Linked DNA regions of Homo sapiens: all the other regions are linked to region 4. The links come from fine-mapping of genetic effects on gene expression. A gene starts in region 4. Each other region holds a variant in brackets. All regions are shown on one strand. Distances are between the middles of the regions. Region 1 holds the start of CYP4F22 (cytochrome P450 family 4 subfamily F member 22). Region 2 overlaps CYP4F22 (cytochrome P450 family 4 subfamily F member 22). Region 3 overlaps AKAP8L (A-kinase anchoring protein 8 like). Region 4 holds the start of RASAL3 (RAS protein activator like 3). Region 5 holds the start of OR10H1 (olfactory receptor family 10 subfamily H member 1).

Region 1 (5,102 bases), 42 kb after region 4:
GCCCGCCACCGTGCCCAGATAATTTTTGTATTTTTAGTAGAGACAGGGTCTCACCATGTTGGCCAGGCTGGCTCAACCTCCTGACCTCAGGTGATCCACCTGCCTCGGCCTCCCAAAGTGCTGGGATTACAGGCAAGAGCCACCTCGCCCGGCCTTTATTCTTTTTTATGACTGAGTAATATTCCATTGTATGGATGGACCACAGTTTGTTTATCCATTCATCTGTTGGTGGAATTTGGGTTGTTTCCACCTTTGGCTATAATAAATCGTGCTATCCCGAGCACTCCTCTACAATTACGTGTGAGTAACTGTTTTCTTTTCTCTTTCTTTCTCTTTATCTCTCTCTCTCTCTCTCTCTCTCTCTCTCTCTCTCTGTCTCTTCTTTCTTTCTTTTTCTTTTTTTTTGAGACAGGGTCTCATTCTGTAGCCAGGCTGGCGTGAAGTGGTACAATCTCAGCTGACTGCAATCTCAGCCTCCCAGTCTCAAGCTGTCTATCCTCCCACCTCAGCCTCCCAAGTAGCTGGGACTATAGGTACGCACATCATGTCCAGCTAATTTTTTATATTTTGTAGAAATGAAGTCTTGCTATGTTGTTCCCCAGGCTAGTCTGGAACTCCTGGGCTTAAGTGATGCTCTCTTGCCTCAGCCTCCCAAAGTGCTGAGATGACAGCTGTAGACCACTGTACCTGGCAAGTACTTGTTTTCAGTTATTGTGTGTGTATACCTAGGAGTGGAATATCTGGGTCCTATGGTAATTCTGATTAGCTTTTTGAGAAATTCCCAAACTGTTTTCCACTGTGGCTGAACCATTTTACGTTGCCACCAGCAGGGTATGGCGAGATCCCTCTTCTTTTTATCTTTGACTCCCTGCCATGACCTGCCACATCCACTCCCAGACAGCTTTCTACTACCATTTCCCAAGTCCAGCCACAGCCTCCACTTCCTCCCCTCCCACTTCAACCTCACCCCACTGAGCCCTGGGCTGTGGCAGGCTGAGGGCTCTGGTGGCATGGGAACCACACAGCTCTAGAGCTTGGGTTCCTTGACGTCTAGGTGCCAGTGATGGTCCCTACTACCACTCTTCTCAAACTCCATCTCCAGCTCCAGCTCAGTGCTGCTGCCTGTCCTCTCTATAAATGTAGCTATTATCTCTGAGGTCAGGAGTTTGAGACCAGCCTGGCCAAAATGGCAAAACCCTGTCTCTACTAAAAATACAAAAATTAGCCGGGCGTGGTGGTGCAAGCCTGTAATCCCAGCTACTCAGGAGGCTGAGGCAGGAGAATTGCTTGAACCCGGGAGGTGGAGGTTGCAGTCAGCCAAGATAGCACCACTGCACTCTAGCCTGGGTGACAGAGCAAGACTCTGTTTGATTAAAAAATAAAATAAAAGGCCAGGCACGGCAGCTCATGCCTGTAATCCCAGCACTTTGGGAGGCCAAGGCAGGTGGATCACTTGAGGTCAGGAGTTTGAGACCAGCCTGGCCAATACGGCGAAACCCCGTCTCTACTAAAAATACAAAAATTAGCCGGGCTTGGTGGTGGGCACCTGTAGTCTCAGCTACTCGGGAGGCTGAGGCAGGAGAATCGCTTGACCCCGGGAGGCGGAGGTTACAGTGAGCCAAGATTGTGCCACTGTATCCAGCCTGGACAACAGAGCAACAGAGTGAGACTCCATCTTAAAAAAAAAAAAAAAGTGGCTGTGATCCCCACTTCTGCCCTCCCCTCCTCTTCTCTGCCCACCTCCCTCCTGAGTGATCTCGCTGACCTACTGCCATGCCATCCACCGTCTTCCCAAGGCAGGTGACTCACAGATGCAATTCTCAGGAGGTGCCCTCACGCTGAGCCCAACTGCCTCCTGGATGTCTCCCTGAATGTCATCCCATGAGACCCACGAGACTTTTAGACTGAAGGTGACCCACGGTTTCCCAATCTTAGCACTGTCAACATTTGAGCCTGGATTATTCTTTGGGGGTGGGGGTGTTCTGGATGTTGAATAATATCTCTGGCCTTCACCCACTAGATGTCAGTTGCACCACCCTGAATTCCCCCACCCCCACCTCTACCCCCCACCCAGCAGTATGATCTCCTGATGTTGCTAAACATTCCCTGGCGGAAAACTCTACTCTGCTGGGATGGCCCCAATCAACTGCAAACTCAAACAGCTGATGTTTGTCCAGCCTGTGCCCTGTGCCAGGAGTGGGGCTGAACACCACCTCATCACATGGGCTTCTTCTGCATTTTATGCATAGGGAGATGGAGGCTCAGAGCAGCCATGTGACTAGCTCAAGGCCACACATCCACGAAGCCCACTCTTAGTGCTCCAGGCCCTTTCACTTACTCCTCCTTCCTGGTCTCCAGCTCTTTGAGAGCAGAGAAGCCAGGCAGATGGCTTCTTTTCCTTCTCTCTTCCCTAGAACCCCGTATTTAGCCAGTGGTCAGTGGAGATGACCTCCGGGACCTCATCCTTAACCCCTTCCTGGGTCTCAGCTACCCCCACCCTTTGTCTCTGTCCCCTGCAGCCACTGGAGGGGTCCCTCTCAAACTTCACTCTATGTGGATCTCTGCATTTTCCAAAGTGCTTCTAGTAAGCTCCCCCTTGGCCAGAATTACTGGCAAAACAAAATTCATATCCCTAAAAAATAGGCTTTCATGCTGCGTTAATTATGAATAAAAAATTAATAAAATAAGCTCTTCCTCAGAAGTAAAAAAGATTAAAGACACAAATAAATATA[AAT/A]ATTTTTTTTTAAAAGTTCTAGGAGCTGGGAGAATGGCTTGAGCCCAGGAGTTTGAGACCAGCCTGGGCAACATAGTGAGACCCTGTCTCTAAAAAAATGAAAAAAAAAAATTAGCTGGGTGTGGTGGCACGTGTCTGTAGTCCCAACTACCCAGGAGGCTGAGGCAGGAGGATGGCTTGAGCCCAGGAGTCACCCCAGCCTGGATGACAGAGTGAGACCAATCAACTAACAGGGGGCACCTCCCCTACTCAAGCACCATCCATGGCTCCCCACTGCCCACCAGATCAAGATCCAGCCATTCAAACTGGCCTTCACAGTCAACTCCTGCATCCCTCCAGCCTCCACACCTCTCACACTCCAAGGCCAGGGAAAGCCATCTGCTAAGTCACACCCTCCAGTTTCTCTGTGCTTGAGCTCTACCCCCTCTCCTGCACTTGTTGAAATCCAACCTCTCCATGCAGTCCCAGCTCAAGTGTCACATCCTCCACGTCGCCTTCCCTGACCTCATGTCTGCCTCCTCCAAGCAGCAAAACTTCAATTACTTGTGTCTCCTCTTCTTCACCAGGAGACATGCCCCACACCTCCCACGCCCTCTTTCCAAGGGCCCAGCACCAAATGAGAGCGTATTCTTAGAAAAAAGAGGGATAAGGAAGTCTTCTAAGTTTACCACCTGCTGGGGCAAGTGGAGATTCTTGTCTTCTCATCTGTCTGCCCACGTGCTAAGGTCAGCCACACATCCACCCACCGACTCCGGAGGACAGACACATCCAGAGGCGGAGCTGACTCTGTCTCCACACATCTGGAGTAGACGGGTTGGCCAAGGACAACATCCTGGTCAGAGGGTCAAGGTGTCTGGCAGTGGGTGGGGAGGAGTGGCGGAGGGCGGGTTGGCGGGGAGCAGAACCAGTCTGGTGCTGCTTGTTGAGGTTGGAGGTCTTCCTGGAGGAAGAGGCTGCAGAGCCTCCAGGGGTGGGTGCCGGGGAAGCTTAGGCCCAGGATCCAGAGAGAGGGGAAGGGCTGGTTCCCAAGGGCTGGTGGAGCCAGAGAATTCCTGAGGGCCCCAGAGGAGGCTTCTCGGGGGGGTCAGTGGGGCCCCAGGGGGTGATGGTTTAGAGATCGCTGTCCAAGCTTGGGAGCAAACCTGGAAGTAAGGGCCATGGGGGGTGTTGGTGTGGGAGGAGTGTGGTCCAGAGCGGGACTTGGGCGCTAATGCGGCCCAGCAGTGGCAGGAGGGCGGGGAGCCTGATGGTTTGGGACTTCTAGGTGTCCAAGTCTCTGTCTCTCTTCATCTCTCCATCTCAGTCTCAGTCTCTCTCTCTTTCCATCGCTCTCCACCCCTCCACACGCCTATTTCTTGTTCTCTCCTTTTCTAGGGGGCAGCGCTGGAGTCCCCGCCCAGAACCCTGCGGGAGCCCGGGGCGGGATGTCCGGGGGCGGACCCCTCGGCACGGCCGGGCGGGGTTAAAGGGTTGGGCCGTGGGACGGCGCGGTCAGATCCCAGGTAGTGGCGCCGGTGGATCCGGATCGAGGGCAGGAGGCTGAGACCCGCGGGTGAGTGCGCGCGTGGTGAGGGCTGTAACCTGAGCGCGGCCGCGGCGCTGCGCTGGAACCCGAGGCTCGCGCGGTTCGGTGCTGGCGGGGCAAGGGCGAAGGTCTGCGCGCGGCGGCGGGCGGGGCGCAGCCGGCCACGGGGACCCCCCCAGGACCCAGGACGGGGCTGCATGCCCGGGGCACTCGTGGGGAGAGGGGCACGTGGGTGTGTCCCCGACGTTTGCTGCATTTGTGAGTTGTTTTCTTTTTTTTTTTTTCTGTGTGCGCCTCGGAGTCCTAGGCGCATCCTTTTCTCTGGGTATCTGTGATGGGCAGGGGGCCTCCAAAAGACCCCTCTGGTAGTCAGGACATCCCAGATGGGTTCAAGCCCCGCCCTGGGACGCCTCTTTGGGGCTGAATGGGGATTCGCCCTGAGATTTCACCACTGCACGTTGTCTTGACGGGGAGGTTGTAGTACATTCAACCGATGGGGTTAGGCTTGTGGTTCAACTGCTATCAGGAACCCTCTGCCCATCCATGCCAGACGCAGAGCCCCTCTATGAAAAGACGGTGTTCTTCTGGCCCCGAGAGTTGGCTCTGAGGGTTGTGTGAGGTCCTGGGGTTGGTCCCAGGTGATCTTCGTCTGATAGATGCTGGAAGGAAGATGTTTTCTGGCCTCCCAGGGGCCTGGCCCAGCCTGGGTATGCAAGTTGGCCGAGGCTGGCCACCTGGGGAGTCGCAGGCTGGAGAGGCCTAGGCTCAGGGCATCTCTCCTGGTTCATCTGCCCGCTCACAGCTCATTCATGCACTCATTGTGAGTCTCACCGCCCTGTAGGC
Region 2 (5,090 bases), 78 kb after region 4:
ACTTTATTGATGTGCTGCTCCTGGCCAGGGTGAGGCTGGGCCCCCTGGAATTGCTGGCCTCCCGAGGGCTGGCCTCCCGAGGAATTGCATGTAAAATGATAAGTGTTAAAACTCCATTAGGCGTGGTGGCTCACACGTGTAATCCCAGCGCTTTGGGAGGCCAAGGCGGGAGGATCGCTTGAGCCCTGGAATTGGAGATCAGCCTGGGCAACACAGGGAGACCCTGTCTCTACAAAAAACAAATAAGTTGGGTGTGGTGCCGCATGCCTATGGTCCCAGCTACTTGGGAGGCTGAAGCAGGAGTCTGGCTTGAGCCCAGGAGTTGGAAGCTGCAGTGAGCTATGATGGTGCCACTGCACTCCAGCCTGGGCAACAGAAGCGAGACTCTGTCTCAAAACAAAACAAAACAATACACATGCTCAAAACAAAAAGAAATTCACATGGGTCTGGGATGGGGTCAGAACATGTAAGACTTACTGCGTGAGTTTTCTTGGGCTGCTATTACAAAGTACCACAAACTAAATGGCCTAAACATCAGCCATTTATTCTCTCACAGTTCTGGAAGCTAGAAGTCCAAGATCAAGGTATCTGCAGGGCTGGTTTCTTCTAAGGCCCATGAAGGATGAATCTGTTCCAGGCCTTGCTCCCTGGCTTGCAGAAGGCTGTCTTCTCCCTATGTCTGCGGATCATCTTCCCTCTGTGCCTGTCTCTGTCTTCGTCTCTTTGTATAAGGATTAGGGCCCTGCCCTAATGAGTTCATTTTGTCTTGATTACTTCTGCAAAGACCTCTCTCCAAACACGGTCATAGCCTGAGGTACTGGAAGTTAGGACTTATGAATTCTAGCGGAGGGGGGGTGGGCAGGGAACCATTCAGCTCATCACAATTGCAAAAATGAAATACATGACCTTGGGCTGGGCGTGGTGGCTCATACCTGTAATCCCAGCACTCTGGGAGGCCAAGGCAGGTGGATCACTTGAGGTCAGGAATTCGAGACCAGCCTGACCAACATGGAGAAACCCCATCTCTACTAAAAATACAAAATTAGCCGGGCGTGGTGGCACACACCTGTAATCCCAGCTACTCGGGAGGTTGAGGCAAAAGAATCACTTGAACCTGGGAGGCGGAGGTTGCGGTGAGCTGAGATCATGCCATTGCACTCAAGTGAAACTCCGTCTCAAAAAAAAAAAAAAAAAAGAAAAAAAAGAAATACATGACCTTGAAGAGATGAGACACTTCTATGGTCACTCATTGGTGTGTCTGTGGACCTTTTGGGTTCTGGATTCAAATAGTCCTGGATTCCAGTCCTGGCTCTGTCGCTTAGTGGATGTTTGACCTTAGTCATTGACTCTTCTTCCCAAGCCTCAGTTTCTCCATTTATACCATGGTGATCATAAAACCTGATCACAAGGTTGTCAGGCATCCAGTGGGATGCTTGGTGTTGGAGGCTGCTCAAGAAATATGAACTTCCTTCTTCTCCTCACTGTTGACTTTCTGTCCCTCTTTACATCTTTCTTTTCTTTTTTCTTGTTTTTTAAAAATGTAATTTAAAGTTCCAGGATAAGCCGGGCGCAGTGGCTCACCCCTGTAATCCCAGCACTTTGGGAAGCTGAGGTGGGAGGATCACCTGAGGTCAGGAGTTCAAGACGAGCCTGGCCAACATATTGAAACACCGTCTCTACTAAAAATAAAAAAAAAATATTAGCCGGGCGTGGTGGCATGCATCTGTAATCCCAGCTCCTCTGGAGGCTGAGGCAGGAGAATCGCTTGAACCCTGGAGGCAGAGGTTGTAGTGAGCCAAGATTGCGCCACTGCACTCCAATCTGGCAACAAGAGAGAAACTCCATCTCAAAAAATTTTTTTTTAAATTAAATGGAAAGTTCAAGGATACGTGTGTAGGGCGTGCAGGTTTGTTACGTAGGTAAACATGTGCCATGGTGGTTTACTGCACCTATCAACTCATCACCTAGGTATTAAGCCCTGCATGCATTTGCTATTTATCCTGATATTCTCCCTCCTCCTGCCACCCTGATAGGCCCCCCAAGTGTGTGTTGTTTCCCCCCTGTGTCCGTGTGTTTTCATTGTTCAGCTCCCACTTATAAGTGGGAACATGTGGTGTTTGGTTTTCTGTTCCTGCCTTAGGTTGCTAAGGATGATGGCTTCCAGCTCCA[T/C]TCAGGTCCCTGCAAAGGACATAATCTTGTTCCTTTTTATGGCTGCATAATATTGCATGGTATATATGTACCACATTTTCTTTATCCAGTCTTTCATTGATGGGCATTTGGGTTGATTCCATGTCTTTGTTATTGTCAATAGTGCTGCAATGAACATATGTGTGCGTGTATCTTTATAATAGAATAATTTATATTCCTTTGGTTGTATACCCGGTAATGGGATTGCTGGGTCAAGTGGTATTTCTGGTTCTAGGTCTTTGAGGAATTGCCACATTGTCTTCCACAATGGTTGAACTAATTTACGTTCCCATCAACCTTGTAAAAGCGTTCCTATTTCTCCACAGCCTCACCAGCATCTCTCACTCAGGGTCTTGCTCTGTCACACAGGCTGGGGTGCAGTGATGCGGTCATGGTTCACTGCAGCCTTGATCTCCTGGGCTTAATCCTCCTGCCTCAGCTTCACCAGTAGCTGGGACTACAGGCATGCATCACCACACCTGGCTGATTTTTTTTTTGTAGAAATGGGGTCTTACCATGTTGCCCAGGCTGGTCTTGAACGCCTAGGCTCAAGTGATCCTCCCACCTTAGCTGCCCAAAGTGTTGGGATTATAGGTGTGAGCCACCATGCTGGGCACTTTCCATCTTTATTAGACAAGTTGCATACTTCCATCTTCCTGGACTAGTTCCCCCCACAGCTTGGCTTAAGAGAGAGAGGGGAGCCAGGCGTGGTAGCTCATGTCTGTAATCCCAGCACTTTGGGAGGATGAGGCAGGTAGATCACTTGAGGCCACGAGTTCGAGACCGGCCTGGCCAATATGGCAAAATTGCATCTCTACTAAAAATACAAAAATTAGCTTGGAGTGGTGGCATGTGCCTGTAATCCCAGCTATTCAGGAGGCTGAGGCACGAGAATCACTTGAACCTGACAGTCGGAGGCTGCAGTTAGCCGAGATTGTGCCACCGCACTCCAGCCTGGGTGATAGAGCGAGACTCCATCTCAGAAAAAAAAAAAAAAAAAAAGATGGGGGCGGGGAGATATCTGAGTTTTGAGGAGCCCCTAGGATGCGGAGGGTGGGATGAAGTGGGCTGAGCACCCTCTACTGCCCATTCCAGGATGAAGATGGAAAGGAACTGTCAGACGAGGATATCCGAGCCGAAGCAGACACCTTCATGTTTGAGGGTGAGGATGTGGGGTGAGGCTGGAGGAGGGCAGGAAGGGACATCATTGTCTGTAGACAGCATCTCTGCTTTCTTCAGGCAGCCTCCATTCAGATACCCTCATCTCCCTGCAGGTCACGACACAACATCCAGTGGGATCTCTTGGATGCTGTTCAATTTGGCAAAGTATCCGGAATACCAGGAGAAATGCCGAGAAGAGATTCAGGAAGTCATGAAAGGCCGGGAGCTGGAGGAGCTGGAGTGGTGAGTGTGGGGTCAGGGGAATGGAGGGGGCAGGTTGAGGCCAGAGCCTTGGGTGTAAGCCTCTGCTCTCCCACTTACTGATTGTGTGACCTCAGACAAGCCACTTTAGCTTCCTGAATTGCAATTTCTTCAGCTACAAAATGGGGGTGGTTATAGTGCCTATGCCCACCTCATAATGCAGAAGTTCTCAAAGTGTCCTAGTCAGCAATTATTGCAATGATGCTGCATAATGAACAGCTCCCAAACTTAGTGGTTTACAGCAAGCATTTGTTTCTTGCTTTTGTATGCACACATTTCTTGCTCTTGTCTGCTCATTACTCTAATTGCTGTTGGACTTGGCTGAGTGGAGTGGAGTTGCTTCAAAACTAAGAGCTGGGTTCAGATCTGCTTCATATACTCCCTTTCTGTTCTCTTTGGACCAGAGGCTACCCTGGGTCGTATTCTTCTCAAGGCAGATTCCAGAAGCACAAAAAGCCATGAAATTTAAAAGCTTTGCTTGGGCCGGGTGGGGTGGCTCACGCCTGTAATCCCAGCATTTTGGGAGGCCGAGGTGGGTGGATCACCTGAGATCAGGAGTTCGAGATCAACCTGGCCAACATGGTGAAACCCCATCTCTACTAAAAATACAAAAATTAGCCAGGTACGGTCATGGGTGCCTGTAATCCCCCCTACTCGGGAGGCTGAGACAGGAGAATCACTTGAACCTGGGAGGTGGAGTTTGCAGTGAGCTGAGATTGCACCACTGCACTCCAGCCTGGGCTACAAGAGTGAAACTCTGTCCCCACCCCCCCACAAAAAAAGATAAAATAAGTAAATAAATAAAATAAAAAAAAAAAACAAAAGCTGTGCTTGCACTAGAAGATTGCATTGGCTAAAACAAGTCACGTGACCAAGCCCAGCATGAATGGGGCAGGACATATACTCCACTCACCTGAGCAGAAGGCACTGAAGAATCATATGACAAAGGGTACAGGTATATAATTCTAATTCAGGGAGGAAGTGGAGAATCAGAACACATACCCAGTCTCTACCAGATTCATGCTATGTAGAGCTGATTCTGGGTGATGAAAAGAAAACACAGCATTAGGCTGGGCGTGGTGGCTCATGCCTGTAATTCCAGCACTTTGGGAGGCCGAGGGGGGTGGATTGCTTGAGCTGAGGTGTTTGAGACCAGCCTGGGCAACATGACGAAACCCTGTCTCTACAAAAAAATACAAAAATTAGCTGGGTGGGGTGGCGCATGCCTATAGTCCCAGCTACTTGGGAGGCTGAGGTGGGAGGACTGCTTGAACCCAGGAGGTGGAGGCTGTGGTGAGTCAAGATTACGCCACTGCACTCCAGCCTGGGTGACAGAGTGAGACCCTGTCTCAAAAAAAAAAAAAAAAAAAAAAAGAAAAGAAAAGAAAAGAAAAGAAGAAAAACACAGCCGCAACATTAAATAGCATCAACTCACACAGTGAGGAGGTTCCTTTCGGTTCTATTTCAACCTTTTGCCTTAT
Region 3 (5,102 bases), 55 kb before region 4:
TAAACTACACAAAATCAGTAAGCTGATAAAAATTAAACATTAATATGGTAGGATCTTGGTTGACTGTTTTTCAAAATGTTATTTAAATGTTATATTGTTCTTGCAATTCAAGCCAGAAGGAAAAATAAATCCATCTCTATTCTTTCACAATTGTGTATGTAAAAAAATCTCAAACAAATCTACAAAAGAGCTACTAGAATAAGTGAGCTTAGCAAGGTTTATTACAAGGTCAATCTGTAAGTCAAATTTCAAATATTACAAGGTAAACCTACAAATCAAATAGCAATCAAATTTCTATATATCAGCAATGAATGGAAAGTTTTTAAAAGTACCATTTCCTATAGCACTAAAAGCATGAAAAACTTGGCGTAAATCTAACAAAGTATGTGTAGGATCTGTGTTGAAAACTACAAAACACTACATCAGTGAAGTGACATACTGCACTCATGAATCAGAAGACTTGATATTGTTAAGATGTCAATTTTCTCAAACTAATCTATAGATTCTACAGATTTGATAGATCTATAGATCCAAGGCTCTCTCACTCAAAATCTCAGCATGAATTTTTTAAAAAACTTCATAAACTGATTCTAAAATTTATATGCAAAAGCAAAGAAACTAACAATTTTGGAAAAAAGAACAAACCTGGAGGACTCATATTTCAAGATTACTATTAACCAGTAATCAAGACTGCATTGCTGGGCGAGGCGCAGTGGCTAATGCCTGTAATTCCAACACTTTGGGAGGCCGAGGCAGGTGGATCATGTGAGGTCGGGAGTTTGAGACCAGCCTGGCCAACATGGTGAAACCAGTCTCTACTAAAAATACAAAAAGACCGTGCTGCTGAACGAAATTTAGATGTACAGACCAATGGAACAGAATGAGAGTCCAAGAGTCCAGAAATAGACCCACAGTATATGGTCAACTGATTTTCAGTAAAGGTACGAAGGCAATTCAATAGAGAAAATATAGGCCTGGCACAGTGGCTCACACCTGTAATCCTAGCACTTTGGGAGGCCAAGGCGGGTGGATCACCTGAGATGGGGAATTCAAGACCAGCCTGGCCAATGTGGTGAAACCGTCTCTACTAATAATACAAAAATTAGCCAGGCGTGGTGGCACATGCCTGTAATACCAGCTATTTGGGAGGCCAAGGCACAAGAATAGCTTGAATCTGGGAGGTGGAGGTTGTGGTGAGCTGAGATCGCGCCATTGCACTCCAGCCTGGGCAACAAGAGCGAAACTCCATCTCAAAAAAAAAAAAAAAAGAAAGAAAGAAAGAAAGAAAGAGGCCGGGCGCGGTGGCTCACGCCTGTAATCCCAACACTTTGGGAGGCCGAGGCGGGAGGATCACGAGGTCAGGAGCTCGAGAACATCCTGGCAAATACGGTGAAACCCCGTCTCTACTGAAAATACAAAAAGATTAGCCAGGCGTGGTGGCGGGCAACTGCTCGGGAGGCTGAAGCGGGAGAATGGCATGAACCCAGGAGGCGGAGCTTGCAGTGAGCTGAGATCGCGCCACTGCACTCCAGCCTGGGGGACAGAGTGAGACTCTGTCTCAAAAAAAAAAAAAAAGAAAGAAAAAATGGTTTTGTTTTTGTTTTTGTTTTTTAAACAAATGGTGCTGGAACAATTATATATTTATATGCCATAGAAGAATAAGAAACCTTAACCTATACTGCACACCTTGTAGAAAAATTAACTCAATATGGATCACAGACTAAATGTAAAACCCACAACTAAAACACCTAAAAGAAAATTCTAAAGAAAATATTACAGATTTCTTAGATATAAAAGCAAAACCATCATCTATTAAAGAAAAGATTGAATTGGGCTTCAAAATTAACAACTTGTGTTCTTTCTGACACAAGACAAGACACACTGACAAGAGAATAGACAAGCCACAGTCTGGGAGAAAATATTTGTAAATGGCATATCCGAGAAATGGCTTGTACTCAGAATATGCAATCCAGAGGGAAAATAATTCAAAAGGATGTGCAATTAGGGACTACATTTGATGAAAAGGGAGAGGCAGGGAGGGCAGCACAGGGAAGTCAAGCAAACCAAGTTTCTCCTCATTTATGAGACACCTGATACCTTCTCACTCAATTTCAAAATATTTTAAGTCTTCCCTTTTCCTGGGACTAGCTGCTGTTACTTGGGGAGCTTACTTAAGTCTCTTTATGCAGTGACCCCTGAAGGCATGTTAGCTGTGTAGGATCAGTCTTTCCCCAGATCTTGGTAGTAAAAGAAATTACCCATCTCAGTAACTAAGACATTATCCCTGTTAATTCCAAAGAGGGCTCCTTCTCAACAGATACCCCTAGAGTCACAGACAACCAAAAACCAGCTTTAACAGCAGTCCGGGCTGCCACAGCACACAAACAAAACAGCATCTGTGAATCCTACTGGTGGCTACTTCTGAATTAGCTAATTAGGTGTTTCTGTCCACGCTGGAAAACTCAATCAGAGATCTTCACTCAACTCTGTGTGTGTGGAGCCTGCTGGCTTGAGGTGGCCTGGCTGAGTCTCCAAAAGCTGCCAGATTCACACACTCAGCCTCTCTCCCACAGCAAGGACATGCACTATGCTGGGACTAAGTTAATAGCTTGCTTTCTCCTGGACCAATCCTTTGGA[CTTT/C]TTTTTTTTTGAGACAGAGTCTTGCTCTGTTGCCAGGCTGGAGTGCAGTGGCATGATATCGGCTCACTGTAACCTCTGCCTCCCGGGTTCAAGTGATTCCCCTGCCTCAGCCTCCTGAGTAGCTGCGACCACAGGCACACACCACCATGCCCGGCTAATTTTTTGTATTTTAGTATAGATGGCATTTCACCATGTTGGCCAGGATGGTCTCGATCTCCTGACCTCAAGTGATCCACCCGCCTCGGCCTCCCAAAGTGCTGGGATTACAGGCAGGAGCCACCGCGCCTGGCCTCCTTTGGACTTTAATTGGCCACTGTGACTCCCAGTCCCTCCCCCATGGGGATTTGAAGCCAGGCCTTTTATCAAAGAGCCTAACTTGCTCAGGAACACAGCTACTTTTCCCATAATTGCCTGAAAGGGAAGCACTAGCTATTCAAATGGCCACACCATTTCACACAAGTTTAGGTTTAAAAAAGCATGACAGGGTGACAGCAAAGCCAAAGGCAACTAAGAAGACAAGGAACTGCTCTGCAGAACACTTTGGTTCCCACCAGAAGTCCACACTTACCATAATCACAGGTGGGCTGAGCGCTGGTATCCGAGTATGTCGACTGCAAAGTGGTTTCAGATCCCTGGACAAAGCCTAAACATAAAGACAGTGGGGTTAATTTCCACAAGCAAGTCACAGGGAAATGACCTGAGACTACCTAACCTTTGGTATAGGATTGCCAGCAGGCCCTTCTCTCAACGAAAAGCCACCAAAACCTCTAGATTCCACAGTTTAATTAGACCGTCAGAAAATATTACCCAATGGAAAGGCAGGCTATGTTTAACTTGCTATACCAGGAGGACTAGATTAAAAAATTATTTATTTACTTTTTAAAAACAAGGTCTCACTCTGTCCGGGCTGCAACGCAGTGGCATGATCACGGCTCACTGCAACCTCGACCTTCCAGGCTCAAACAATCCTCCTGCCTCAGCCTCCCAAGTAGCTGAGACTATACGTTCGTGCCATCATTCGCAGCTAATTTTTATACTTTTTTGTAGAGATGGGGTTTCATCATGTTGCCCTGGCTGGTCTTTAATTCCTAGGCTTAAGCAATCCACCCTCCTGAACCTCCCAAAGTGCTGGGATTACAGGTGTGAGCCACAGAGCCTGGCCCCAAATAAAAATTTTTAAACATTTAAGCCAGTAGCCTATTTTGAGAAATGAACACCCAAGTTATCATTCTGTTAAATGAGGAAACTATTCAAATCCCTGAAGGGTGAGCCACTTGGAATTCAAACAAGGATGGAGGTTAGCTTCAAAACCATGTTAAAGCAAATAATACCCCCCTCCCTGTTCTAAATCTGAAACAGAAACTGCTTTTTATTTTGGTTTTCCCATTAAAAAGTGTGTATAACAATTATAACAATTATTTCTGGGCCGGGCAGTGGCTCATGCCTGTAATCCCAACACTTTGGGAGGCCAAGATGACCAGCCTGGGCAACAGGGTGAAACCCTGTCTCTACAAAAAAAAAAAAAAGCCAGCTGTGGCAGCATGTGCCTGTAGTCCTAGCTACTTGGGAGGCTGAGGTGGGAGTGTCACTTGAGCCCAGAAGGTCAAGGCTGCAGTGAGCTATGATTGCGCCACTGCATTCCAGCCTGGGTGACAGAGCAAGACCCTGTCTCAAAACAAAAACAAAAACAAAAAACAATTATTTCTTAAAAGTAATTATTTGGGGTGGCATGGTCATATGGAAATAAGTATTATTATATATACATAAAATTTCCTATCTTCTCAACTTTCAAACTATTTCTCAACATAAAATGAATTAGGGCTGGATGCAGTGGCTCATGCCTGTACTCACAGTACTTTGGGAGGCCAAGGGGGGGTGGACTGGTTGAGGCCAGGAGTTCAAGACCAGCCTGGCCAACATGGTGAAACCCCATCTCTACTAAAAATACAAAAATTAGCTACTAAAAATACAAAAATTACAGGGCACAGTGGCTCACGCCTGTAATCCCAGCACTTTGGGCGGCCGAGGCAGGTGGATCACGAGGTTAGGAGTTCGAGATCAGCCTGGCCAATATGGTGAAACCCTGTCTCTACTAAAAATACAAAAATTAGCTGGGCGTGGTGGTGTGTGCCTGTAGTCCCAGCTGCGCAGGAGGCTGAGGCAGGAGAATCGCTTGAACCCAGGAGGCAGAGGTTGCAGTGAGCCAAAATCATGCCACTGCATTCCAGCCTAGGCGACAGAGCAAGACTCCGTCTCAAAACAAACAAACAAAACCCCAAAATTAGCTGGGTGTGGTGGCACCTGCCTGTAATCCCAGGTTCTTGGGAGGGTGAGGCAGAAGAACTGCTTAAACCCAGGAGGCGGAGATTGCAGTGAGTGGAGATCGTGCCACTGCACTCAAGCCTGGGTAATAGAGCAAGACTCCATCTCAAAATAAATAAATAAATGAAATAAAATAAAAT
Region 4 (5,102 bases):
TTGGGCCTGGGGCCGGGCGCGGTGGCTCACGCCTGTAATCCCAGCACTTTGGGAGGCTGAGGCGGGCGGATCATGAGGTCAGGAGATCGAGACCATTCTGGTTAACACAGTGAAACCCTGTCTCTACTAGAAATACAACAATTAGCTGGGCATGGTGGCGGGTTCCTGTAGTCCCAGCTGCTCAGGAGGCTGAGGCAGGAGAATGGCGTGAACCCAGGAGGCGGAGCTTGCGGTGAGCCGAGATCGCGCCACTGCACTCCAGCCTGGGCAACAGAGCGAGACTCCATCTCAAAAAAAAAATAAAAAAAATGCTGGGCCCTAGGCTAGTGTTACATTCCTGAGCCCTAATTCTTGTGATATCCATTACTCTTCTAGATCCCCCTGTGTGACACTTAGCACCATCTGTCATTTTTTTTCTTTCTTTTTTTTTTTTTTCTTCCATTGAGATGGAGTCTCCCTCTGTCGCCCAGGCGGGAGTGCAGTAGTGCAATCTCAGCTCACTGCAACCTCCACCTCCCGGGTTCAAGCGATTATCCTGCCTCAGCCTCCTGAGTAGCTGGGAGTACAGGTATGTGCCACCATGCCTAGATACTTTTTTTTTTTTGTATTTTTAGTAGAAACAGGGTTTTGCCATGTTGGCCAGGCTGGTCTCGAACTCCTGAGCTCAGGTGATCCACCCACCTTGGCCTCCCAAAGTGCTGGGATTACAGGTGTGAGCCATCATGCCTGGCCCATCTGTCATTTTCTTGTTGATGGATTTCCTGTCAATTCCACTACACTGTGAGCTCCATGGGGCAGGGAGGGTCATCTGTCTCTTTCACTAGTGTGTCCTCAGTGCCTAAATCAGGGCCTGGCACATACAATAGAAGCTCAACAAACCTCTGCTTGAATAAATGAATGAATATGAGCAAATAAAATTATATACTCTCCAAAATGGAGATCATTATTCTCACTGAACTGATGGAGAGGCTGAGGCTTAAGGGCTCAGAACAAAGACACGGAAGCTAGAAGGTAGGAGAGTAGGAGGCAGGCTGAAGATGGATATCCAGGTAGGAAAGGATGGGCCTGAGCCATTGAAGGAGAGACCCGTTGGGGCCAAGAGCCGTTTAGCCTCTGGACAATACTATCACGGGTTTACATTCACTGTTCCTTCCTCAGATGGACCCTCTGCCCACAGGACCCCGGCAACTCCTCCTACCCTCTTTAGGGGGAAAGAGGGAACAGGGTAGCTGGGCCCCAGCGGCTTCCTGCTGGGCTTTTGCACTCCCCACAACTTCCTGTGTCTGTATGGTTGATGCTCCGGAGGCAGACAAAACCCAAGCATCCGGCTTCCCAGCCCGGCCCAAGCTCAGGGTGGGGGAACCATGTACCTGGGGCCTCCTGCTCCGGCTCCGGGTCTGGCTCCGGCGGTGGGTTCTTATGCCTCCCCCAGAGGGCCTTGGAGAGTCGAAGGCGACTGGTCCGTGACTCCTTGGGAGGCGCAGATAGGACCCGACGGAATATCGAGCGAGGGGCTGGCTGGGTGCTGACCATGGGCTCCTGGTGGCTCAGGGCCCTGCCCCAGCCAGCAAAGCGGCCCCAGCGGAACCCTCCAGCCGCCTTCTCCCCACCGCCCCCTGTGTGCCAGCGGTAGGAAGTCAGCGGAGAGGTGGCTGTGGGCTGGGTTTGGGAGGTCCGGCTTGGCGACGGTGGGTCCATGGTTGGGGGGGGGGGTCTCCTGGGGGACGAGAGAGTGACAGTAGTGCCCAGTGTCTGTCCACATACTGCCCTCATCTCGGCCCCCTCCCCACCCTCAGCTCTGCCTCCAGGAATCCCCCTGCCCCCACCTCCACTCCCTCCCTTACCTTGGTTTCCTGACCAGCCCCAGAATCAGCAGCCGTCTGCACCCCGCCTGGCTTCCTCCCTCGGAACCCAACTCCACGTGACCCTCTCTGTCCCACCCCACCCCACAGCCAGGCTGGGAGGGCACAGTGCGGGCAGGTTGCTGGAGGTTCGAGGGAGGAGAAGAGAGGAGGTGGGTTACCAGGCTTCTAGCAAGAAGGACCCAGACTGCCTCCCTGACGGGGAGGCAGCACTTGCCCCTCTCTCTGAGCCTCCGTTGCCTTCTCTGCAAAATGAGTACAGGCTGAACAAATGCTGGCGAGAATACAAAGCACCTAGAACTCTAATCCACAGTTGGCCGGAGTGTAGACCCATTCACTCATGTTGGGAAACGGTTTGGCAGGATCTACTAACACTACTAGCTGGATCTTCTCTGACTCAGCAATTCCATTGCTAGGTAGACGTCCAATAGATATGCCCCCCCAGCACAATGCATAATAGCCCCACATTGGAAGCAGCCTAAGTACCCATTAGTGGGAGAAGGAATAAATTGTGATCTCTTCGCACAGCAGAATATCATACAGCAGTGAGAACAAACTAAAGAATGATTTAACTTGGGTGAATCACAAACAATGTTGAGCCAAAACCAAAACCAAAGCCATAAAATGCCAGTAATCTGAGCTATTCAGGAGGCTGAGGGAGGAGGATCGCTTGAGGCCAGGAGTTCGAGGCTGCAGTGAGCTGTGATCATGCCTGTGAATAGGCAGTGCACTCCAGTCTGGGTGACATAGGGAGACCTCATATCTAACTTTTTTTTTTCTTTTTCCCCTCCCTGCCCTCGGGAGACCCCATCTCTAAAAAGCAATAATAAATAAATTTAAAAACCCCAAAACAATGAAGAGTATACACTTTGTGATTCCATTTACATAAAGTCCTAAAGCAGGCAAAACCATGTCTAACAAGCAGGGTATCAGTTTCTTTTGGAGGCACTGGTGGCTGGGAAGAGGGTACAAGGGGGGCTTCTGGAAGATGGCAAGATTTATTATTACTCTTATTATTATTAATTGATTTATTTATCGAGAAGGAGTTTCGCTCTGTCTCCCAGGCTGGTGTGCAGTGGCACGATCTTGGCTCACTGCAATCTCTGCCTCCCGGATTCAAGTGATTCTCCCTACTCAGCCTCCTGAGTAGCTGGGACTACAGGTATTCACCACCATGCCTGCCTAATTTTTTTGTATTTTTAGTAGAGACGGGGTTTCACCATGTTGGTCAGGCTGGTCTTGAACTCCTGACCTGAAATGATCTGCCCGCCTTGGCCTCCCAAAGTGCTGGTATTATAGGCGTAAGCCACCGTGCCCGGCCCTTATTATTATTATTATTTATAAATGAGGTCTATAAAAATAATATAGATCTCATAAAATAAAAATATAATATTTATATTACATAGTAATATAAATAATATTACATTATACATAATATGAATATTATTATTTTTTGTAGATGAGGTCTGTCATCCAGGCTGGAGTGCAGTGGTGCCATCATAGCTCTCTGTAACCTCTAACTCCTGGGCTCAAGAGATCCTCTCGCCTTAGCCTCCTGAGTAGCTGGGACTACAGCTGCATGCCACCACACCTGGCTTATTAAAAACAATTTTTTTGTTGTTGTTGAGATGAGGGTCTTGCTTTGTTGCCCAGGCTGTTCTTGAACTCCTGGCCTCAAGTGATCCTCCCACCTCAGCCCCCTAAGTAGCTGGGATAATAGGCACATGCTACCATGCCTGGCCTATTTTTTTTTTAATTGAGGTAAAATTCATATAACACAAATTTAGCATGTTCTTTTTTTTTTAATAAGATTTTTTTTTGAGACAGGGTCTTGCTCTGTTGGCCAAGCTGGAGTGCAGTGGCACAATCACAGCTCACTGCATTCTCAACCTCCTGGGCTCAAGCGATCCTCCTACCTCAGGCTCTCGAGTAGCTGGGACTACAGGTGCATGCTACCTGACTAATTTTTAACTTTTTGTTTGTTTGTTTTTTGTAGAGATGGGGCCTCACTATGTTGCCCATGCTTGTCTTGAACTCCTGGGCTCAAGCAATCCTCATGCCTCAGCCTCCCAAAGTGCTGGGAATACAGGAATAGCATCAGCCTCTGTGCCCAGAGAGACGAAGCCTTGTTCTGTCACCCAGGCAGGAGTACAGTGGCTATTCCCAGGCATGATTGTGGGTCACTGCAACCTTGAATTCCTGGGCTCAGGCAATCCTCCTGCCTCAGCCTCCTGAGTAGCTGGGACTGCAGGTGCATGCCACCATGCCTGGCTAATTTTAATTTTTTTTTTTTTGTAAAGAGACAGGGTCTCACTATGTTGCCCAGGCTGGTCTCCTACTCCTGGGCTCAGGCAGTCCTCCTGCTTCAGCCTCTGTAGTGGCTGGGACTGCAGATGTGTGCCACCACGCTTGGCTTAACATGTTCTATTTCTTGAGCTGGGTCCTGGTTACATGGCTGTGTGCTGTTGTGAAAATTCATCAAGCTGTGCCCTTGGGAGCACTTTCTTGTATCTCTGTTAGGCTTCCACAGATGTTTACTTGAAAGCCAGAGGTAAGTAAATGCCATTCTGAGGAATAAATGAGTCAGCATAAATCCGGTCCAGGAGCCGAGTACCAGCTGGCCCCTCTCCCTCTGTGTGACCTCAGACAAGTCATTTCCTCTCTCTGAGCCTCGTTTTCCTTATTTGTACAAGACGATAATATCAGTTTCAAAAGATTCATGTAAGCCTTTGTCTAGTCAACAAATGTTTCCCGAGTGCCTATTACATGCTAGGTGCTGGAGAGGCCGCAGAGAACTAACCAAACTTGGTTTCTGCCTTCCTGGAGCTCACAGATGATGGAGGTAGATAAGATCCTAAACTCATACATGAGACATTTCTAGCTGGTAAGGAGGACCTAGAAGGAAATAGGCTGCAGTGAATGCTGAGCAAAAATGCCACTCTTTGAGCTGGAAAAATCAGGGAGGACTTCCCTGAGGAGGTGACATTTGCAGCCATTTGTATCTAGCAGATGGAGTCCACTATGTCTGTGTAACAAGCATTCCAAAAGTGCCAGTGAATTAACATGTCCCTGAGAGCAGCCCTCACATAATAACTGGTGGGAATTAGTGTATAAATACCCCAGCTCCCTCAACCCTTGTGTGGGATGACTCAGGTATGTGTCCTATGCTCTCCCTCAGGGCTTCGAAGTGAGACTGAGCTCTCTTGCCTACAGTGGAAACTTGCTTGAAAACACATTATT
Region 5 (5,102 bases), 350 kb after region 4:
TGATATTTAGGGCCAGGTCATTCTTTCTGTGGGGAGCTGTTCTGTGTCTCATAACATGTTTAGTAGCATCCCTGGTCTCTGTCAACTCAATGCCAGCAGCCATTGCTCAGTCATGACAACCAAAAAATGTCTCCAGAAAACACCCATGTCTCCATGGGGCTCAAAGTCACCCCCAGTTGAGAACCGCTGATCCAGAGAGTGCAGCCGCAACTCCTTCACACCCTCCCTCTGCTGGGATCCCCATTCCTCCACTTCTTCACCTGGCAAACCCCTGTTTGTTGTTAAGATTCAGCTTAGATGTCACCTCTTCCATGCAGTCCTCCTGGATATTTCTTCCCAAGGCATATTAAGCCACCCATTCCTGGGTGCTTTCAAAATAATGATTCCCAGTTAATGGTAACAGCAGGCATTGGTTCAATTCTCGCTCTGTGCCTCCTACAAGTAACTTTAAAGCTCCTTGCTCATGACTTTGTTATGATGTTTGCCGTGATATGTCATGTTGGAGCTGTGTCTATCCCTGGAACCTGATTGTGAATCCCTGAAGCCAAGGACTGTTGTGTCTACAGCACCAGTGCTGTGTACTCAACAACAACACCGATGAGAGCAGCTGCCCTTTACTGGATATGTCCTACAGACCAGGCACTGCACTCACATCACTCATGCTATTCTTATTGAATATTTACCCCCACATTAGAAGTCATCTGCTCTGATCCCTATTTTACAGACAGGGAAACTGAAACCCACGACACATCACTTGCCTTAGGTGCCTTGAGTCTGAAGTGGGGGCCCAGGGTCTGAGCTTAGGTCTGATTGATCTCAAAGCCTGTCTTTTCCTAACCTCTTGTTATACTCACCAGTTGCTGGTGGCTGTTTCAAAGGCCACTAGGAGATGCTGCTTCCCCATGACTGACCGTCTACACACTCTTGTTCATATCAATTCAGATCACAAGAATCGACAGCGAGTGAGTGAACAAGGTGGGGGGAGAGAGAGAGAGAGAAAAGGAGGAGGAGGAGGAGGAGGAAAAGAAAGAAAAAAGGGAGGAAGAAAGAGAGGGAGGGAGGGAGGAAGGAAAGAAGGATAAAAGGAAGGAAGGATGGGGACTGCAGGAGGAAGGAAGGAGGGAGGGAGGGAAGGAGGAAGGAAGGAACGAAGGAAGGAAGGAAGGAGAGTGAGGGAGGAAAGGAGGAGAGTGAGGAAGGAAGAAAGGAGGGAGGGAGGCAGGAAGGAAGGAGAGTGAGGGAGGAAAGAAGGAGAGTGAGGAAGGAAGGAAGAAAGGGAGGGAGGGAGGCAGGAAGGAAGGAAGGAGAGTGAGGGAGGAAAGAAGGAGAGTGAGATAGGAAGAAACGAGGGAGGGAGGAATGGAGGGAGGAAGGAAGGGAGGGAGGGAGAAACCTTGAGAGGACAGGAGCCGATCACGTCTGTAGGAGGTAGCTGAGGGCTGCATGTAACACCGTCTGGAATGATGGGATGCAGAATGCAGCTAAAAGGGTAGTCCAGTCATTCTGGAAAAATCAAAACCATGGAGACAGCAAAAGATCAGTGGCTTCCAGGGGACCAGTGGGTGAGAGGGAGGGATGAATGGGTGGGGCACAGAGGGTTTTTAAGACAGTGTAACTATGTTGTGTGATACTGTCATGGTAGATACAGGACATTGTGCATTTGTCAAAACCCAGAGAATGTACAGCCCCAAGAGTGAACTCTAATGTAACTGTGGATTTCAGTCAATGACAATGTGTCAACACTGGTTCATCAGTTGTAACAGATTAATGGTAAAAAAAAAAAAAAATCCCAGTTGCTAATTATAGGGGAAATTGTGTGCAGGCGGAGAGAGGGTATATGGAGATTCTCTGCAGTATCTATCTGCTCTATGTTCTGTAAATCTGAAACTGCTCTTAAAATAAAGTCTATTAATTTTAAAAAGTAAAACAAAACCAAACCCATGGTGGATGTGGGACTAGGATAGCAGCGAGGAGGATTTAGAGCTTCTGGGCATTGATTCACCAGCAGAACATCCAGTGGGTTCCTCTGTAGGTAAAACAGAGAGAGAGAAAGGTAGGAAGAGAAAGAGAGAGATGGGGATAGAGAGAGAGGCAGGGGAAGAGAGAGAGAGAGAGAGAGAGAGAGGAGGCGAGGGAGAAACAGAGAGAGAGAGGTGGGGAGAGAAAGAAAGAGAGGTGGGGAGAGAGAAAGAGAGAGACAGAGAGGTGGAGACACAGAGAGATGTGGGGAAAGAGCACACACAGAGAGAGAGAGAGATGGAGGGAGAGAGAGAAGTGGGGAGATAGAGAGTGGGAGGTGGGGGGAGAGAGAGAGAGAAGGACAGGGAGAAAGACACAGAGAGAGGTGGGGAGAGAGAAGTGGGGAGAGAGACACAGAGAGTGTGGGAGGTGGGGAGAGAGAGGGTTGGGGAAAGAGAGAGAGAGACAGAGAGAAGGGTGGGGAGAGAGAGAGAAGTGGAGAGAGAGGGAGGTGGGAAGAGAAACAGAGAGAGGAAAGAGAGGTAGGGAGAAAGAGAGGACAGAGGGGAAAGAGAAGAAAAAGGTGAGAAGAAAGAGAGAGAGCAAGCAAGCCCACTGTCTAGCACTGACAGGAACACCCGGTGGGGCCAGTTCTCCACTCAGAGACTCTAGGGCTAAGCGTGGCTGTGGACAAGTCCTGCCACAGACATCCCTAGAGCAGGGTTTCCTGCCTTCAGCATTAGGGACGCTAGGGGCGAATCATTCTCTCTCAGAGGGGTGTCCTGTGCACTGCAGGAGACTGAGCAGCATTCTTGGTCTCCACCCACCAGATAGATACCAGCAGCACTCCCCAGTCACGACAATCAGAAATGTCCTTATACGTTGTCACGTGTCTCCTGGGTGACAGCATCACTCCATGGGCCAGGCCTGTCTTGTCTCTGAGACCCCATCTGGCCTTAACTCTCACCCATCCTGGCTCTCTCTTCTTAGTGAAGCTGTCTGGCCTCCCCTCTCTTCCACTTAAGCCACCACTTCCCTCTCTTTTCTCTCCATCTTCTCATCCCCAGCTCCTAACCATTCCCTCACCACCTGCTCCCATTGACGCCTCCC[TTG/T]TGTGTGTGTGTGTGTGTGTGTGTGTGTGTGTGTGAGAGAGAGAGAGAGAGAGAGAGAGAGAGAGAGAGAGAGAGAGAGAGAGAGAGACAGGGTATCCCTCTGTCACCCAGGCTGGAGTGCAGAGGCACAATCACAGCTCACTGCAGCCTTAACTTCCTGGGCTCAAGCAATCCTCCCACCTCAATCTCTGGAGTAGCTACAGGTGCCTGCCATTCCTGGCCAATTTTTGTATTTTTTTGTACAGACAGGGTCTCACTATGCTGCCCAGGCTGGCCTCAAACTCTTGGACTCAAGTGATCCTCCCACCTTGGCCTCCCAAAGTGCTGGGATTGCAGGCATGAGCCACTGCACCCGGCCCACCCTGATTCTTTACACCCTGGGGTGGTGGCTGGAGCTTCTGAACCCTGAATCCTCTTTCTCTCTTTTCTCCGCCTCTTCCCAATCCTTTTTCCGTAGACTTCTTGCCTGGACAGACCGAGAAGAGAGGTTAAAATCAAACCATCACCTTGGGTCACATTGAGCATTGGCTGTCTTCTCTCTGCACCTGTTACCTCCCCCATCCAAGGGACCTACCTCATGAGGCAGCAGGAGCTCTAAAGAAGGCAAGTCCTGGCTGGGCACGATGGCTCATGCCTGTAATCCCAGTACTTTGGGAAGCCGAGGCGGGTGGATCACGAGATCAGGAGTTCAAGACCAGCCTGTCCAGCATGGTGAAACCCCTGTCTCTACTAAAAATACAAAAAATTAGCCAGGCATGGTGGCACGCACCTGTAGTCCCAGCTACTCAGGAGGCTGAGGGAGAAGAATCGCTTGAACCTGGCAGGCGGAGGTTGCAGTGAGCCGAGATTGCGCCACTGCACTCCAGCCTGGGCTACAGAGCGAGATTCCGTCTCAAAAAAAAAAAAAAAAAAATAGAAGAAGGTAAGTCCTGCTAAGCAAACAGCACACTGACTAAGACGTGGTGAGTGGCCTCTGCCTGTCACCCACTGCCCTGTAGACTCACATTGCTAAAGGAGTAATATAAACAGGTGGTTTCTTGGAGTCCCTGGCAGGTGCTGGTTCCCCAGGTCTCTCCTGGTCAGGTGGCTGAGAGGGGAGGTGACTCACCTGGGACTCCAGGCATCTGCTTCTGCTTCATCCCAGTAGGAGGCTCTAGTTTGGAGTTTCTCCACAGGTGGGAGCTGACCAGGTGTGGGCTGCACCAAGCAGCCACACCAGCTGAGCCGGGGGCTTGACTGAGCCCAAATGCGATTATTTATCCCTCCCTGACTCCCTGCCCACCGGCTTCCCTCGCTGTGGTCCTACTGTCTCTGTCTCCGCTACAGGGATGCTGGGACCCCAGGGACCCTGCCAGAGAGGAGGCAACCTCAGGGAATCTGTATCCTCACTTTCCCATTCCCCCCGCCTGCCAGGGGTGAGTCAATTCCCTGAGCTTGTCAAGAGCTTGAGCAGAGTCTAGTGCTCTACAGATTTGGGGTTTGGGCCCATGACTGTTGAAATTGACAGGAGGGCAGCCCTGCCATTGCCCCCAGGGACTGCAGAGGCTGCCTTGATATGCCCCGTCACCTTCATTCTTCTCCAACTGGGTCATTTGCCCAACTAAATGTCCTTTAAAATAATTTTTTAAAACCAACACACACACACGTATTTGTTTTTATTTTTATTTTTTGAGACAGGGTCTAGCTCTGTTGCCCAGGCTGGAGTGCAGTGGTGTGATTATGGCTCACTGCAGCCTCAACCTCCCAGGCTCAAATGATTCTCCTGCCTCAGCCTCCTGAGCAGCTGGGAGTAAAGGTGCTTGCCACCACACCTGGGCTAAGTTTTAATTTTTCTGTAGAGATGGGGTCTCGCTTTGTTGCCCAGGCTGGTCTTGAGCTCCTTGGCTCAAGGGATCCTCCCACCTTGACCTCTCAAAGTGCTGGGATTACAGCTGTGAGCCACCATGCCTGGCCTGTTTCTTCTTATTATGTAATTGAAATGCTACATACAAAGCAGCAAACCATGCAATGGCCAGCCAGGCAATCGTGACG

What was found.
Region 1: its variant is fine-mapped to the expression of RASAL3 in whole blood (INTERVAL, PIP above 0.99).
Region 2: its variant is fine-mapped to the expression of RASAL3 in whole blood (TOPMed, PIP above 0.99).
Region 3: its variant is fine-mapped to the expression of RASAL3 in whole blood (INTERVAL, PIP above 0.99).
Region 5: its variant is fine-mapped to the expression of RASAL3 in whole blood (INTERVAL, PIP above 0.99).

The regions. Positions count from the first base shown.
Region 1 is chr19:15,504,298-15,509,399 of GRCh38, forward strand. It overlaps CYP4F22 (cytochrome P450 family 4 subfamily F member 22), which reads left to right and starts at 4,228. Exons shown (of 14, transcript NM_173483.4): 1 at 4,228-4,286. RefSeq lists an enhancer at 3,872-4,372. The variant AAT/A (reference allele first, on the strand shown) is at 2,733.
Region 2 is chr19:15,540,689-15,545,778 of GRCh38, forward strand. It overlaps CYP4F22 (cytochrome P450 family 4 subfamily F member 22), which reads left to right. Exons shown (of 14, transcript NM_173483.4): 8 at 1-29; 9 at 3,283-3,349; 10 at 3,462-3,591. Among named protein-coding and RNA genes, the nearest start is that of CYP4F22, 35 kb to the left of the region's middle. The variant T/C (reference allele first, on the strand shown) is at 2,170.
Region 3 is chr19:15,407,312-15,412,413 of GRCh38, forward strand. AKAP8L (A-kinase anchoring protein 8 like) reads right to left here. Exons shown (of 14, transcript NM_014371.4): 2 at 3,209-3,283. Among named protein-coding and RNA genes, the nearest start is that of AKAP8L, 9.1 kb to the right of the region's middle. The variant CTTT/C (reference allele first, on the strand shown) is at 2,638.
Region 4 is chr19:15,462,661-15,467,762 of GRCh38, forward strand. It overlaps RASAL3 (RAS protein activator like 3), which reads right to left and starts at 1,884. Exons shown (of 18, transcript NM_022904.3): 1 at 1,845-1,884; 2 at 1,371-1,717. The coding sequence starts at 1,698. RefSeq lists enhancers at 1,108-1,247, 1,348-1,477, 2,118-2,227.
Region 5 is chr19:15,811,376-15,816,477 of GRCh38, forward strand. It overlaps OR10H1 (olfactory receptor family 10 subfamily H member 1), which reads right to left and starts at 4,289. Exons shown (of 4, transcript NM_013940.4): 1 at 4,180-4,289; 2 at 855-1,503. The variant TTG/T (reference allele first, on the strand shown) is at 3,070.